Linked DNA regions of Homo sapiens: region 2 is linked to region 1. Evidence: fine-mapped expression QTL. A gene starts in region 1. The other region holds a variant in brackets. All regions are shown on one strand. Distances are from middle to middle.

Region 1 (8,322 bases):
TAGCCATTTCAGAACTTGTCCTTGAGCTTCATTTCCAAATCTGTTATGTCAGGATGATTCTTTCTCCATCACCTGCTCTCCCGTGAACTTGGTTTTCTTCCTAGATGCAGGTGTAGCACCAACAGAAGATCCCCCACAATCCCACACCCAAGCAGTGCTAGGCTTCCCTGCAGAGGACAGCCCATGTCTAAGACACAGTCACGTCCCCAATCCCCAGATGAGTGCGGGTGTTGAGACGTGAAGGATGAATGAATGATATTCACTGCATGCTGTTATGGAAGGGAGGAAGGGAATATTTCTTCTTTAAATGCCTGCCCAGGCCTCTCCTGCCCTCCACCAAATTACAGCCTGGAGTTAAGGTGCATCTTCTCACAGGAAGAACTGGCCCCAAAAGAAGGTGCACCCTGGGGAGGTGGTGATCACTCCATGTTGCCAGAGCTACCAGCCCCGCTCTATGGATAAAGACCAAAAGTGTAGGTCCCTTCAACTCAGAAGCCCGGAGAAAGCAAATGTTGCCTGCATCCAGACAGCAACGTGGGTGGCTCTGGCAGGGGAATCCTAGAGCAGTGACTCCCCCAGCCAGGTGGTTTCCTCACCATCTCCTAGCCTGGCCTCCAGCGTACAGGTCAAGGCCACTCTGTGGCCCCCCCAGCCCCCTTCCCACTCCACCACAGAACCTCACCACCATGGAGCCCCTGAGCTGGAAGCCTTGAAGGCAGTGAGTGCACGATTCTGAGAGGAGGCGAGGGCGGCACACAGCGCATGGATGAGACAGGCAGGAAGCCAGGCAGGCTCAGAATGAGTAACTGCAGATTCTCTTTGTGCCATGCCTGTTGTCACGGGGGATGGCAAGTGACTCCACTTCTCTCTCTTTCCCGCCACCTCCCGTGTCCTTGGCACCCATGTGATTCTGACATCCAGAAGGGATATGAGATGGTGCTAGAGACTAGGGACAGGTTTTAGGGATCCCAGAGGGGAGACTTCAGAACAGACCCCCCCAGGGAGGAATCCATGCAAGAAGGACATGGGGGAACAGAGAGTAGGAGGCGACTATGGCTCTCCTCCTCAAGCCTGGACTGGGAAGGCAAGGCAGACTCCAGAGGGGCTTAGGCTTTGGACAGGGTGGGGAGATTGGGACCACAGGCTTCCCACTCCCTCAGGTAGTCCGTCGGCCCCCCCTCTGCTTCTGACATCCCTCTTCCTCCAAGAAGCCTTCCCAGATCAACTGGGTGCACAAAAGGATGGCTTCCTCAGCAGATTCTACAGGACTCCCCAAGAGTGGGCCCACGGTTGACCCCCTTCCCCCCAGTGCTTCAGAACACAGGACAGGACATTCGGGAGCAATTAGTTGAAACACAGTCACATTTAATGTTGGTTGAATTTTTTAGGTTTTTGTTTGGTTTTGCTATTTTCTTTCTGCTCTTTTCATTTCTGAATATGTTTTGTGCCCTTTGATAGGTAAGGAAGGGTGGATCCCCCAGGAGAACAATTCTGAAAGAACAAAGAAGTGATGTTTATTCCGAAGAATCTGCAAGGAAACAATTATTTCTGATTCACCTACTCCCTTCCGGGGAGCAAGGCCTGCAAAGGCATCAGATGCCTTCCCAGCCACTCACTGCCTCCAACCTGGCCATCCAGCCCTCCAACAGAGGAGAGGAAGGGTAGTGTGGGCCCCCCTCCAGAGCCAGGGGAAGGCAACCCATCCCCACTGGTAGCCAGTCCCTCTCCCTCCCTCCCCACCCTGCCCACCAGCCATTCACTGGTGGGTCACATGGCAAAGTGAGGTCTGCCTCTCCAATCCTCACACCCATCATATACCCTCAAGTGTCCAAGAACCTTGTCCTCCAGGAGAGCAGGAGAACTTCAACAACCCTGGGGGCATGACACATTAATGATAGGATTTCAGCATCCTGCAGCTGGCTAGGTGCTGTGTGTGTATGTATGTGTTGAGGAGTGAGGGCTGAGGATTCATGACACCCCAAACCCACAGGTTTGCTCTTCACATCTAGGGCTCCTAGGACACCATGCCAGCACAAGTAACTTCCCAGGAAAAAGACACAATTCCACTGTCCTGCCAGGGAACTGAGACCCGAGACGGGGTACACAGGGTCATAAGGAGAGACAAAGACCCCTGATTTCTGAGCTAACAGCAGCCGTCAGGGGTGTGGATAGCTGAGGAGATGGCTGAGGATGATTCAAACACTCCCGCCATTGGGAGATCGAGTACAAACCCAAGAAAGGCTAGGACAGAGGCATCTCCACAGCTCCCAAATCTAAGGAAAGGCCTGTGTCCAGCCTCACTGATTATATCGGGAAGGAGGTAGAAATTGCAGGGAGTACAGTAGCTCCCCAAGTTCCCCTCATGGCAAGGGGATGCTGCCCATCCACCTCTGTGCCCCCAGTGCACAGCACAGGGCCTGGCACACAGAAAGAGATTAATAAATGTGCATGGAAGAAAGGAGGGAGGGGCTCCATGGTGGCGAGGTTCCCTTTAATGAAGGGAAGGAGGAGAGGGAGGAAAGGGAAAAAGAGCAAGTGCAGGGGATGGAATGCTGGAAGGGAGGAAGAAAGAAGAGAAAGAAGAGAGAGTGGAAAGAAAGTGTAAGTACGCCCTGAAGAAAGGGCCAGGGCACTCATCCCTTCCCGGCTTTCCCCCACTCCCCTCAAGCCCACCCCATGGCAGCATCCCAACGTTCCCTCTCTGTAGGGAGGGAAGCCCTGGTGGGTCCTCAGGGAGCTCCTGCGCGCCTGCTGTTCAGCCAAAGCCTAGCGCGGGACCTCCTTCAGGTAGCCGCACATTCTGCTCAGGGCTCTGGGACCCGCTGCCCTCTCCGCCTCTCCACTGAACTCCGCCTCTCCTTCTGTCACACGGCTCCGCCAGCCACTCTATCCTGCCGCCGCGACCACATCTCCAGCCTCGATTGTGCAGGCTCGAGCCCGTAGAAAGAGGGCTAGCAGCCACCTGCGCTTGGTCCACAAGAAGACGCGCTCCCAGGGCGCAGAGCTGGTGACCCCGCTCCCCATGCCAGGGACGAATAAACGAGAAAAGGGGCTGACCCGGTGTCACCCAGCGGCCGAGCAGCCGCCCCTTGGAAGCTCAGCACCAAAGGCAGGCGGCCAGGGTCCTGGCCCCTCTCTGGACCCCAGTATCCCCAGCTGTAAAATAGGGAATGCAGGAGGAGGACGACGTCTGTGGATCGTTTTAGGTCAGCTGCGGAGTCGGCCTGCGGGCTGGGAGCAGACCTCGCTCCCCACGCGAGGGCGCTGGCACTTCAGCCCAGCCTCCCTGGGGAGGTGCCCTGGACGAGACCCGCGAGGGTGCGGACACCTCATCCTCCCTGGAGCAGGTCTCCCGAGGCTTGAAGGGCCAGGGCACCCAACAGGTGCTGAGCGCGCCCCACCAGGTCACCCGGGAGCAGGGAACACCAAGGAACCCAGAGTCGGGCCTCTTTCGAGCCCTCGCTTCCTCTCGCCTGGCTTCTTCGGCGCGAAGGATGAATTGGGGTTGTTGAAAATTGATCAAACAACCCGATCTCTGTCAGCGCCTGGACACTTGCTGGGCCCCAGCTCGCAGCCTGGGAAGATAAGTGGCACTTCCTGTCTCGTAATCGGATTTGCGCGCACGAACCCTCGGAGACGCACAGGTGGGAAATGGGGAGGCTGGCGGGGAGGCCTCCTGGAGGAGGTGGCTCCGAGGGTAGACATGAGGAGCGCCCTGGGATGGGGCTGAGGGTGGATACAGAGGTGGGAGCTTGCGAAGGTCGTGAGCTAAGCATGGAAGGATGGAATGTGTTCGGGTCTCGAGATTCCCGGGTGATGAGCCCGGAGGGGCGAAGGCCTATAAATGTCTCACGACGGAAGACCAAGGTGTGGGATTGGCAAAGAGAGAGCAGAGCTTCCTCACTGGCAGGGGCTCCCCAGCCCCGCCCCATACCTGCGCGGCGGCCCCGCCTCCACCCATCCATTGGCTAGATCCGCCGCCCGTCAGACGAGCCCCCGGGGCCCGCCCCCAGCCCTGAGCTGCGCCTCTTAGCTCTGGGGCCACAGCGCCAGCGCCACTCTGCCAGGCTCCCGGCCATCGCCCGCCTGGTGCGCCGCCCGCCAGCTCTTTGCCCGCGCGGGGCCGCCCGCCGCGGGCTCAGGGCAGACCATGCGCCCGCCAAGTCCGCTGCCCGCCCGCTGGCTATGCGTGCTGGCAGGCGCCCTCGCCTGGGCCCTTGGGCCGGCGGTGAGTGTTCGCCCGGCCGCCCAGAGTCCCGGCAGCCTGGGGGTTGCGGAGGGCGGGGGAGGTGGGGGATGGCGGGAGCCGGGCCGTCTGTGCGCGTGTCTGTGTAAGAGGAATAGGGGACATCAAGCATCTCGACTCGCCTCCTCCCACCGCTCCAGACCGAACCTAGACGCGAGGGCTGGGATATTGGTCGTGCCCAGTCCCTCCCAGCGCAGCCCGGAGCAGGCACAGCATCAGTGGAGGGGCAGCGGGGAAGAGTGGGCCCCAGACTTGCCTTCCTTGTCGTGGTTGTGGGTGCGCAGCGGGGTGGGGCGGCCAGTGGGTGCAGAGTCAGGTACTGCGGCCGATTGAGATGGAAGGTTTGGTACACCGTAGGTGAGAGGGAGGATGTGAGGGGCCGTTCTTGTGTGCTGTGACCGTCTGGAGGTGCCTGTGGGCTGTCAGCATCAGAACCAGTGCTGGGGGCCCCAGGACTTGAGAAGGGGTTCTTGGGATCAGGTGAGTGACAGGCACATCCCTCCGTGTGCCCTCCCACTGAGCAAAGCAAAAAGGTACCAGACCCCAAGGTGGAAGCTGGTGGGCAGTGAGGGGCTAAGGGTGGTGGTTAACAGGAGGGGCCAGGCCTGTACATGGAGAGAGCTGAGCAGGGAGCCAATGCCAACAAGCAGTGGCCTCCCTCTTCCTCCCACTTCTGCTTCCTCTCAACGTGGGTATGTGTATGCCCTTGATACATGTGTACTCGTGTGCCCCATGTGTGGGTGTGATATGTGTTCCTGTGGATGGCTTACCTGGGCTGGGAGGCAGATGCTGATTGAGGCAGGAGATGCATGGATCATCTCACTCTAGAACAGGGGAGACCTCAGCACTCATTGAGTCTACTGAAGCCCATTTTACAGATGGGCAAAGCGAGGTCCAGAGACACAAGAGCCACATCTGTCTCCCACCAGTTAGACCTAGACAAAGGTTGATTTTCTCCCTACCCCAGACTTTGAGTAATCTAGAGTTGCTGCTTAGGCAGGGCCTTAAATGCCCACTCCAAGTTGGCTGGGGGAGGGTGAGGAATCTTGATTATCTAGTTCATTCTCTCCCATGGTCACTTCCCTTACCATCACCTCCACCAGAGCAGGTATCTCTGTGTTTCCATCTAGCGGATGTCTTGAGCACCCTGGGAATGGGAAGCTCATTGCCTGTCCTAGGAGCGGACCTCTGACAATTGGCAGGAGCCTCACCTCCACCCATGACAGCCATGAGACCCACCTCCTGAGCACTCAAAATCTTACCAAGCTCTGTCCCAGAGGCCACAGCTCTGGCACAACTTGCATGAAGCCTTCAGGCCTCTCCAACCACCATCTGGCCCTCCCAACCCCAGGTTCAAGCCACTCAAACTCTTCTTGGATGAACCGGGGATCTTGGGACCACTGTTGTCACCCCATTCCTCCATCCCGAGAAGCTTCTGAGCCCAGGGGCAGAGTGGATTCAGAGAGGTCTCCTTTCACACCAGGCCACTTCTACTTCACACTTCCTGAGACAGCCCAAATCTGTCTCCTCCCTCCAATGCCTACCCTCCCCCTGTCTTTCCACATCTTATTCGTTTAGTGCCCAACTCTATCTCCTCCTCCAGACAGCCTTCCCTGATTGCTCCAGCCAACTCAACCCTTCCCCCTCTAACCCCACCCTTCAGCCCTACCCACCTCCCAGGCTGGGCTATTCTGGCCATCCTATAAGGTCAGGGGCTGGGGTCTCTTACATCCCCATGTTTCTTACAGCCCAGTGCAGGGGCTGGGTCCACAGAGAGAGGAGAAGGGACTCAACCAGGACTGGGTGAGGGCAGGCTGGAGTGAGGGGTCCCTATTTCCCTCCCTGATTCTCCCTCCTCCCCACCAGCTACCAATCGCTCCCTCATGGAATGGGGCAAACCTGCTCTAGCCGGACTCGGTGTGACGGCGGGGTGGGGGGGCGGGGTGACAGGAGTTATCAGAGTCATAAAATGGCAGCTGCAAAGTTCAAGTTGAAGGCCCAAGGCCTTATCACTCCTGTTTATGGTGCCCTGACTTCAGCCTGGGAAGGAGAAATCTCTGAAAAGGGAGGCAAAAAAAAAAAAAAAAAAAAAAAAGGAAAGAAAACCTCCAGTGTCTCAGAGGAGGAAGTCTGCCCCAAGGCCACCTGTCAAGCCTTCCACTGCCCCTGCCCCCCGGACAGCAGGCACAGGGACTCCTCATCCAGAAGCAGAGCTGCTCAGGGCAATGCCCAGTACGAGGCTGGGGGAGGAGGGTCACAGGCCTCCTCGTGGGAAATTCTCTATCTGGTGTGGGAGACCAGACCCAGTGACTTAGGAGAAAGAGTCCAGGTGGATGTGGGGTACAGCCTCCTAGAACTGGGGCAGGGGTTGCTGAGAGGAACAGTCAGGGGAGGCTCCTGGAAGAAGCAGGACTGTGCCCTAAAGAGTTTGACCAGATGGGCCAATCTTTCACCCTAAACCATAAAACAGCCTCTGTTGACAGGACCAATGGGCCTGCCCCCAGAAGGAGGAGTCCCAGGGACTGGGAGAGGCTCGACTTCTCCCCAACTCTGAGGTTGATCAGTGGCCACAAGCTCCTGAAGGCCTTGCCTTGCCACCGGCATCCTGCTGCCCCTGCCACCTGCCTCTAGCCTCTCCAGAGGCGGACCACAGCTGCCCAGGCCCTCTTGGCCCCCAGCAGGCCACCCTGTGAGCTTTGGGAAACATGGCTGCATCTGGGTCAGGCCTCCTCCTCAAGTGAGGTTACCACCTCAGTTAGGCCTGGCCAGGGCTCCCAGGGTACCATGCTGGAAAAGCGAGCCCTTTTGGAAGTTTCTACCCTCCTGTCCTGGTGCACTAAGACTATGCCTTCTCTGAGGTTTGTGGGACATCCTTGGGGAGCCCAGGCTGGAAACAGGAGAGCTGGTCCTCACTCCACTCCATGGCAATGGCTTGACCTTGGGAACATCTTTAACTTTTGTGGAAGGGCCTCGGGTTCCTCACCACAAAAGGGAAGGTGAGAGGCCTCCGCCCAGTGTGCAGGAGAAGTGGGAGGAGAGGGTTAGGCTGGAGCCAACTCTGCCTCCTGAGTGGGACATAATCTACCCCTGGAGCACCAGGGTCTCTGTGAAAGGGGGTTTGTCTTTCAAGCAGGACTTCTGTGAGCTTTGAAGGAGGTAAAGGTTGTGAAGGTGGCTATGTGAACTGTGTGACTGTCATCCCTTCTCCTACGTCCCCAGCTTGGGAGCCCTGTGCAAACTTATACAGCTATTTCTGGCCCCCATCTTCCCACAGGTTCCCAGGGCAGCAGGAGTCCTGGGGAATGGGGGACGTTTCCTCATTAGGTGGCCAAAACATTTTGGGGGTAAGGCTCCAGGCCTAGGTAGGCAATGGGGCCTCTCAGAGCAGATGGGCCTTCACAACGTGGGCAGCCTCAGTGGAAATCCAACATGGGCCATGAGACCAGGGTAGGGGCTCTAACCTGCCACGTGCCACAACTCTGCCATTGCTGGGCCCTTCACTGTGGCTCCTTTGGCCATGGAGCAGGGAATGGGGCCTGGGGACTATGTAAAGCCTAGTCCCTTTCTTAAATCCTTCTGTTCAACCCCCAGATTCTGCCTTCCCCTCTCTGACTTCTTAACACAAAATGATTTTTATTGTACCCATTGAAAATGTCAGTATGTACTCTCTCACATAACTTAGAAGTATTTCCTTTTTTTCTTTTTTTTCTTTTTGAGATGGAGTCTTGCTCTGTCACCCAGGCTGGAGTGTGGTGGTGTGATCTTGGCTCACTGCAACCTCCAGCTTCCAGGTTTAAGCGATTCTTCTGGCTCAGCCTCCCTAGGAGCTGAGATTACAGGCTCCCGCCACCATGCCTGGCTAAATTTTGTATTTTTAGTAGAGACAGGGTTTCGCCATGTTGGCCAGGCTGCTCTTGAACTCCTGGCTTCAGGTGATCCACCTGCCTCAGCCTCCCAAAGTGCTTGGAATTACAAGCATGAGTCACCACGCCTGGCCCCTTAGAAGTATTTCTGAAGAAGAAAAAAACAGTTTAATCTCTCCACCACGTGTATAGTGTTTTAAATTTTTACTTTTT
Region 2 (8,322 bases), 25 kb after region 1:
TTGGGCCTGCCGGTTTCCAGGCCCAGACTGGAGGGAGACTCTTGGCTGCTTCTTGGGATCCCATGGTGACTGCCATTTTGATATCCTTGAGAGCAGCTTGCTATGAGGCCTTGACCACAATCCCAGGGCTCTTCAAAGAGACCACCTGGCCCCAGAGATGACCCATTGTCCCCTCCCCTCCTCTCCTTCACCATCTATGGCAGCCAGGGCTCCAGAAAACAGAGTATCCCTTTGGCCGCTGCTGGGAGCCCAGAAAGATCTGGAGTCAGGCAGACCTTGGTCTGCATCCCACCTGCTGCTCCCTTGCTGTGTGACCATGGGCAAATGACTTAACCTCTCTTAGCCTTGGGATCCCCATTTTTTGATGGGATAACAAAAACTACCAATTCCTAGCCCTAACACATTAATGTTTACCCTAACACCTCCGCCACTACACACACACACACACACACACACACACACACACACGGCATGTGAAGCTGCTGTGTACATGCCAGAGTCACCCAGGTTTGCTGGCATAATTCATGATACCAGATGCTTGCCATGTCATTGGGCCTGGCCTCCTCAAGCCCCGGTCCCTCTGGTGAGTAGGGAGCCCAAAGCTCCAGTGTCCCAGCTTCAAGGCTGGGTGATTTTGGCCTTAATCCTCTTTTTTTTTTCCCTGAGTCGGAGTTTTACTCTGTCACCCAGGTGGGAGTGCAGTGGTGTGATCTCGGCTCACTGCAACCTCCACCTCCTGGGTTCAAGCGATTCTCCTGCCTCAGCCTCCTGAGTAGCTGGGACTACAGGTGTGTGCCACCACTCCCAGATAATTTTTGTATTTTTAGTAAAGACAGGGTTTCACTATGTTGGCCAGGCTGATCTTGAACTCTGACCTCGTGATCTGCCTGCCTTGGCCTACCAAACTGCTGGGATTACAGGCATGAGCCACCGCACCCAGCCCTTAACCCTGTTTTCTACCTGCCTGAGCCTTGTAGGGGGAAGTCCTCAAATGAATCAGATTGTGGGTGGGATCCAGGGCCTCAGAGCCTGCAGTTAGCTCCCTGGAACTGGGGCTGAGGAAGAGCCTACCCTTTGATGAGGGGCTGGGCTGAAGGCTCTGGGCCAGGCCCACCTCTGGCTGCAATGATGGGAAGCTGAGAGGGGCGCAGAAGGACAGCTGAAGGCTTTTCTGCTGTCCTAGGAGCCTCTTGCAACAGTGAGGTTGGGAGCCCAGGGCAGAAAAAGGGATGCCAAGGCAGGAAACTGGCCCAGTCCAATGCCCCCTCCTCAACCAAATCCATCCTGCCCTCCCTGGGCCATGCGGTGGAAATAGACCCAGCCCACGGCTGCTCTTTCCTGGCTGTCCCATCCCCACCCCTAGCTGTCCCTCAGTTCTTCATCCATGAAGTAGGGTGACAAGACCTCTTTCCAAGGGTTGCCAGGAGGATTTACAGAAATGGTGAATATGGAATCACCTGGTATATTCCGGGCATACGGCAAAGTTTGGAAATAAACACACGTGCCCAGTGACACTTCCTGAGCTCATAGAACAGCTTGACCCTCCTGCAGCTCTTTATCTGGTCACCGAAATAAGTCCTCAGGTCACCTCCATGCAGGTGAGAACCAAGCTTACCTGGGAAGACTCTGGAGACCAAATCAGCTCTATCCTGTCCTCTCTATGTAGCCTTGGGCAAGTAACCAACCTCTTGGGGCCTCCACTTCTTAACTGTGAAATGGAGTTAACTTCCTCACTGGATGATTGAGGAAATTAAACAGGATGTGCCTAAAGTGCTTGACCAGCACTGACATTTGAAAAGTACTCAAAACCTGTCATTGTGATGAGGCTGACAACAGTGATGCTGCTGATGCTGCTCATGGTGACTATGGCGGTGGTGGTGGTGGTGATGAACGGGTACTGAGATGGGGAAGCGTGATTCTTCTCTGGCTCATCTAATTTCTATTCAACCCATCCTCTCCCTCTCTGGGGAGAGGACACCTCCCCAGTGCTGGAGAGTGGGGAGCCTCAGTGGTACCCCTCACCTCACATACCCCCTAAGCGGTCCTGTCTCTTTGCTGCAGCTTCAAGCCTCTGAGGACAGTGGACAGTGCAGCTTGCCTGGAGCCTCAGCCTCTGCTTGTTTCAGCCCCAAGCTCCTGCCATGCTGTGCTGCCTGATTCCCCCTCACATGCCTTTGCCTGCACAGGTTCCCCAACCCCACCCCTCCTCACCCCCACACTCCTGCTCCCCCTCCAGCAGCACATCTAAGCCCTTCCAGGTGTGAGAAGAAACCCAGCCCCACAGGCCCAGGCAGGCTGACTGAGGAGGACCGGGCAGGCCTGGGCCCCTTCCCCCAGCCGTGGCCTTGTGACAAGGGTCAGCATTCTGCTCACGGCAAGGGTCAGGAATCATTCTGTGACAAGGATCCAGGCAGGGTCTGTGACAAGGATAAGAGTGTATGTTGTACTTGGGGTCAGGTTCAGACCATAACAAAAGGGCTGAGCCCAAGAATGTCTGCTCTGATTCTATCATCGGTGCGGGAGCCCTGAAGAGGCTTCTCCCTGCCCCAGGTGCCCCCACGGTGCCCTGGGTAACTGGGTCAGGGCAGCTGGAACCTGACAGCACCAGGGTTGGTGGGAGTAGGGCTGAATTCTCTGCCTTGTTCCAAGCAGAGACAGCCAGGTCCCCATGCTCCCGGCCTCAGCCTTTGTCCTTGCCCCTGCCCTCCACCCAGGCCGCAATGTAAGCCGCAGCTGCACCGACGAAGGCTGGACGCACCTGGAGCCTGGCCCGTACCCCATTGCCTGTGGTTTGGATGACAAGGCAGCGAGTTTGGATGAGGTGGGTCTCAGGGCACCCCCACCTCACCTGCAGAGCGCCGGGGCCCACCTAGGAGACTTTGATCTCTCCCACCGAGGGGTGTGGTTGCTGTCTGTGTGGGAACAGGACTCCTGGAGTCTGCCCTCCTCTAGCCTCCTCCAGGCCTGCCTTTCTGGGGTCCCAACCCTTGGCTCCCCCTGACAGGGTATGGGAGGAGGCTTTCCCACAGGAGGGGCCCCCAGAGCAGCAAAAGCTGAAGCAGCTCCCCCAGGCTGGGCCACCCTACTGCCTCATGGGAACCTCACTTCAGCCCGGGAGTTGGCAGGGCAGGCAGACACCAGCACCCCATCCCATCCAGAGGGGAAACCGAGTTGCTGCAGGTCCTGGAAGGAACCAGACTTGGCTACCAAATAGCCAGTCAGGAACAGGGACAGAGCCTGTCATTCTCAGTCCCAGGACAGATATCTTCCCCGGAGCAGTTAAAACATGGTCTCTGTAAAGACTGGGGAGCCTGGTAAGGACATTGATGGGGAGGCTGGAGTCCTCAGCTAGGAGCCCCTCACTGCTTTGGGGTGCAAATGCATGTGTGTGTGTCTGTCTGCGATGGCATCTGCCCCACCCTCAGGCGCCCTTCTCAGACCGGGCTTTCACTCCACCCACCCCCGAGGACAGCAATTTCTTCAGAGGCCTTTGAAGCCCACTGGAGCTATAGGCCCTCATTCCCCCTTAACCACTTGCCTCTCCTCAGGCAAGCGTGGGAGGCTGACAGGAAGGAGTGGCTTGCCTAGTGGCTGTCGTGCTGCACTGCACCTGTGTCCATGGGGAGGGCATCAGGAGAGGGGACCAAGCGAGACACCCTCGGGGCCTAGCTTTGCCCTCCTCCACCGGAAAGGCCAGACTGCCCTCATCCCACCGACCCCAACTCCCAAGGGCCCAAAATGGGACATACTAGTGCCAGTGTCTTCTTCGACATCCCGCAACCTCGCATACCTCTCCTCCCTATACAGAGACAGGGCCTCGAGGGGTGTCTGAAGGGCAAGCAGACCCCACCCCTAGGGTGCCCAGCTCAGAGCTGGCACAGAAGGGAAGCCGGGCACATGGCTGGAGACATGAAATTAACAAAAGGGACGTGCAAGGTCTTCATTCTCTCCCTCACCAACTTGTCCCTCGTAAAGAAGCAAAGACAGGAAGTACATTCAACCCCCACCCCACCCTAAGACACAGTCCTGCCCTGT[C/G]TGTAGAAACCAGGGCGTTAGGGGTCAGGGGCTCAGCTGCTCTTGGGAGCCCCAGACCTCAGCCTCCTCATTTGCTGAGGCAGGGTTGGGCAGGCAGAGTGTGTAGGGCACCCCACCCCTGCCAATACCCCCTAGATGAGCCTCCCACCCCACCACCCAAGAGCCTCTCCCTGTCCCTCCAACAGCAGCAGACCATGTTCTACGGTTCTGTGAAGACCGGCTACACCATTGGCTACGGCCTGTCCCTCGCCACCCTTCTGGTCGCCACAGCTATCCTGAGCCTGTTCAGGTGAGGCCCAGCCCAAGTCACAGGCCTCAAAGCAAACCTGGCAAGTGTCCCTCCCACAGTGGAGCCCAGCGTGGCCCAGGCGTGCCCCGACCCCTCCACTGTTGCCCCCCAGCAGCACATACTCCCCAGCTCCTGCCAGGCCAGCTTCCCCTGGAGAAGGCAGGTGGCTGAGCTCTTCCATGTGTTGCAGCCTAGTCTCCCCTAGGATGGCCCTGCACCTGGGGACAGGGCACCAGAGAGTGGGGCCTGCACACAGGAATGAGGCTTCTGGGGCCACACACGAGGTTGAGGCCCTTGGGAGCCCAGTTGCACAGGTGGATGGGGTACCTGGGGGTGGGGCTCGTATTTCAGGATGGGATCCCCTTTGAGGCGGGGCCTGCCCTCTGGAGGACACATGCTCCCCTGCCCCACCCTTGCTCAGCACATAGGACAGCATTGGCTGGGGTGGGGATCCAAGGCCCCTTTGGCCTCCCAGATCTGCCCACCCCACACAGGAAGCTCCACTGCACGCGGAACTACATCCACATGCACCTCTTCATATCCTTCATCCTGAGGGCTGCCGCTGTCTTCATCAAAGACTTGGCCCTCTTCGACAGCGGGGAGTCGGACCAGTGCTCCGAGGGCTCGGTGAGGATCCTGGCCCTGGCCCACCTCCCTCAGTCTCGCCGTTATCTTTAACCACTGTAATCTCCTCTTCTCCCCCTGCTTCTCCCTCTCCCTCCTCCCTCTTCCCTCCCACCCCACCCCTCAATCCAAGGATAGCCTAACCCCCACCCAACCCCACCTGGCAGTACTCAAATCACACTCCCCTCCGGCAACAGGAGATGTTGCTCACCCATCTGGGTGCTCACAGACCTGCCGCCGCCAGTGAGAAAAGCAGATGGGAAATGGGACACTTCATGGCCACAGCCCAGAGCACCTGTCCCACCTGTTGCTAACTTCCTATGTGGCCTTGGGGAACTTACAGCCTCAGTTTCCCCATCTGTGCAAGGAATTCCAAGATTCCTTCCAACTCTGCCATCTGCCACCTGCATAGCCAGGGCTCTGCTCACCATGCCACTTTTCCTACTCCCCCCGTCCCCGTGCCATCTGGAGTGGGTCCATACATATGCAGTCCTCCTCTTTTGTTCTGATCCTGACAGCAGGCTGGTTCTGGGCCTTCCTAGGGAAGAGAGGTAAAGGGATCATCTAAGGAATTCATTGCCAGTCACTAAGGGGGCCATCTCCAAGGGATTCTTAGGGACCCTCTCTGAGTGCCCCAAGCTTTGACAGAGAGCTTGAGATCAGCCCCAGCCCCCACTCATTCCTTGTGGTCAGTAACTCATTGCTTCATGCATGACCCCAGAGGCAGTGCATTATATCAGGGGTCAGCAGTACCTTCTCCCCAAAGAGTGAAATGATCATACTGGAATCTCAGGCATTTCAACAAGGGGGAGAGAAAACCTAGGGGACCCACTTTGGCCATTCCCAGAGCTTCTCAGAGGTTCTGTCCCAGGAGCTGTGAGGCCAAGTCAGACATGAGCATTGTGAGCCACAGGACCTGTGGAGGAACCTGCTGCCTCCTGTGCACATGTTACGGATAATTATGGAGACTGGCTTCCCAATTCATTACTGCGAAGCTTTTCTAAGACTAGGAAGAAGCACAGATAACTGTCCTGGTAAAGAGCTGAGTTATGGCCAGACGCGGATTATGGCTCACGCCTGTAATCCCAGCACTTCTGGAGGCTGAGTTGGGCGGATCATGAGGTCAGGAGTTCAAGACCAGCCTGACCAACATGGTGAAACCCAGTCTCTACTAAAAATACAAAAATAAAAAAAATTAGCTGAGTGTGGTGGTCAGCACCTGTAATCCCAGCTACTCAGAAGGCTGAGGCAGAATAATCGTTTGAACCAAGGAGGCAGAGGTTGCAATGAGCCGAGATCATGCCATTGCACTCCAGCCTAGGTGACAGAGCAAGACTCCATCTCAAAAAAAAAAAAAAAAAAAAGAGTTATTCTCCAAAAGCAAATGGGAGGAAGATGGGGAGGCAAGAACTCCTGTAACTGGAGGGACTGAAGCGAGACCTGAGGAAGGACTTTCCAACCAAAGGGAGTGGTGGGGGCAGGGGGAGGCTTCTCTCTGAGGATGTCGCAAACCAAGGGTACAGGAAGGAAGGGTGGGAACCAATGTTTTGGGTACAGGGGGAAGTGGAAGCCAGACAGTTTCCTGGTGGAGGGTGGCTTTAAGCCCTGGCTGACAGACATCTAGGCTTGATCTGAAATGGGGGACTTTCTGGGAGGGGACAGAAGGCCCAGAATACCTTCCAGTCATGCCAAGTGGGCCACCCAGAGCCCTGTGATTGCTCTACTCATGGGTCTCCCTAACTCCTTCATGGTCCTCGTCTGCCTAAGAAACCCATTCTTCCACTCGGTCCTCTGAACCCCAGGAGGAATGGCCACCCCTCCCCTCTTCTCTTCTTCTTCATTTCTACTTCCCCCTCTTCCACCCTCTTCTCAGTCCCAGTCTCCCTCCACACTTCCATCTGGGCCCCACTCCACAGTCCACAGCCCTCCACTCCCCCACATTGAGCAGACTCTTGAAACTCAAGCAAGAATTCTCCCTCATACCTTCCAGCTACCTTCAATACAAATTGGCATTAGATGAATGAGTGGGTGGGGTGGGAGTGTGGATGGGCAGGTTGGTGGATGGCTAAGTAGGCAGCAGGATAAATGGGTTAAGTAAGGAAGATTGGACAGATGATAGGCAGAGGGGCAGGTAGGTAGATATGTGGGTGGATGCACAAGTGGATTGATGGGTGGGTGCAGAGATGAATGGATGGGTAGATGACTGAGTGGGTTGGTAGAAGAATGGAGAGATAGGTGTGTGGGTGGATGGATTGATAGATGGGAAGATGATAGATGATGGATGGACACATGGATAAAAAATGGATAAATGAGTGAGTTGATAGTGAATGTCTAGTGGGTGAGTGGGTAAATAAATGGATACATGGATAGGTGGGTAGATGATTGAATGGGCAGATGGGTAGATATATAGATGGGAAGGTGAATAGATGAATTGATGGATGGATAATTAAAATCACCAGTTTATCCCGAAGTATCAGAGGATCTAAAATTAGGGAAAATGGGAAAACCAATGAGTACATTTTTAAGGGGATAATGCAAAACAACAAAGAGATTAAGTTGGCTGCACTGCAACTGTGTTTGTCCCCCCAGACACGAGTGTGGGCAGTCAAGGACCCTTGACAGCCCCAGTGAACCCCGTCTTTTCTCCTCCCCCTGCAGGTGGGCTGTAAGGCAGCCATGGTCTTTTTCCAATATTGTGTCATGGCTAACTTCTTCTGGCTGCTGGTGGAGGGCCTCTACCTGTACACCCTGCTTGCCGTCTCCTTCTTCTCTGAGCGGAAGTACTTCTGGGGGTACATACTCATCGGCTGGGGTATGGTACCAGGGAGGGCTTCCAGGCTGGGGACAGAGGGGGCAAGGCCTGGAGAACTCCCTAGGGGGAGGGTGCCAACCCAGCTTGCAGTCCTACGTCTTGCTTAGCTGCAGGTCCTGCCTGCAAGGATATCAGCCAAGGGTCAAGAAAGTCCTCAAAATGTCTGATCCCAGGACAAGTCCCTCAGGTTGCAGCTGCACCTAGGGCTGACCTGTGGGACAGATTTTGTGAACATCTTTCCATTTCCCTTTAGTTCCCGAAATACACAGGGCCACTGCTAATCTATAAAGGGCCTCTGTCACAATTAGAAAGAGAATGTCCGTCTAGGTAGACACAGCCCTTCAGGCATACAGCTTCACCCCCTCAGTGGAGCATCCCTCCGTGGTGAACAACCTATGCAACCAAAGACAGCAGACTGACAACCCACCCTTTTCTCTCTCCCTCCCTCTCCCTGCTTTTCTCCAAAATCTCTCCCTCATGCCCTCTACCCCTGCTTCCTGTGCCCTCTCTGCTCTTTCACTCTCCCTGGGCCTGACAGGGGTACCCAGCACATTCACCATGG

Evidence for each region.
Region 2: its variant is fine-mapped to the expression of VIPR1 in whole blood (TOPMed, PIP above 0.99).

The regions. Positions count from the first base shown.
Region 1 is chr3:42,498,586-42,506,907 of GRCh38, forward strand. VIPR1 (vasoactive intestinal peptide receptor 1) reads left to right here and starts at 4,058. Exons shown (of 13, transcript NM_004624.4): 1 at 4,058-4,228. The coding sequence starts at 4,151. RefSeq lists an enhancer at 2,556-3,129 and silencers at 3,657-3,756, 3,817-4,316.
Region 2 is chr3:42,523,173-42,531,494 of GRCh38, forward strand. VIPR1 (vasoactive intestinal peptide receptor 1) reads left to right here. Exons shown (of 13, transcript NM_004624.4): 4 at 2,715-2,821; 5 at 4,221-4,324; 6 at 4,819-4,951; 7 at 7,607-7,760; 8 at 8,299-8,322. VIPR1-AS1 (VIPR1 antisense RNA 1) reads right to left here. Exons shown (of 3, transcript NR_046654.1): 3 at 7,724-7,786. Among named protein-coding and RNA genes, the nearest start is that of VIPR1-AS1, 5.3 kb to the right of the region's middle. RefSeq lists a silencer at 1,472-1,642. The variant C/G (reference allele first, on the strand shown) is at 4,036.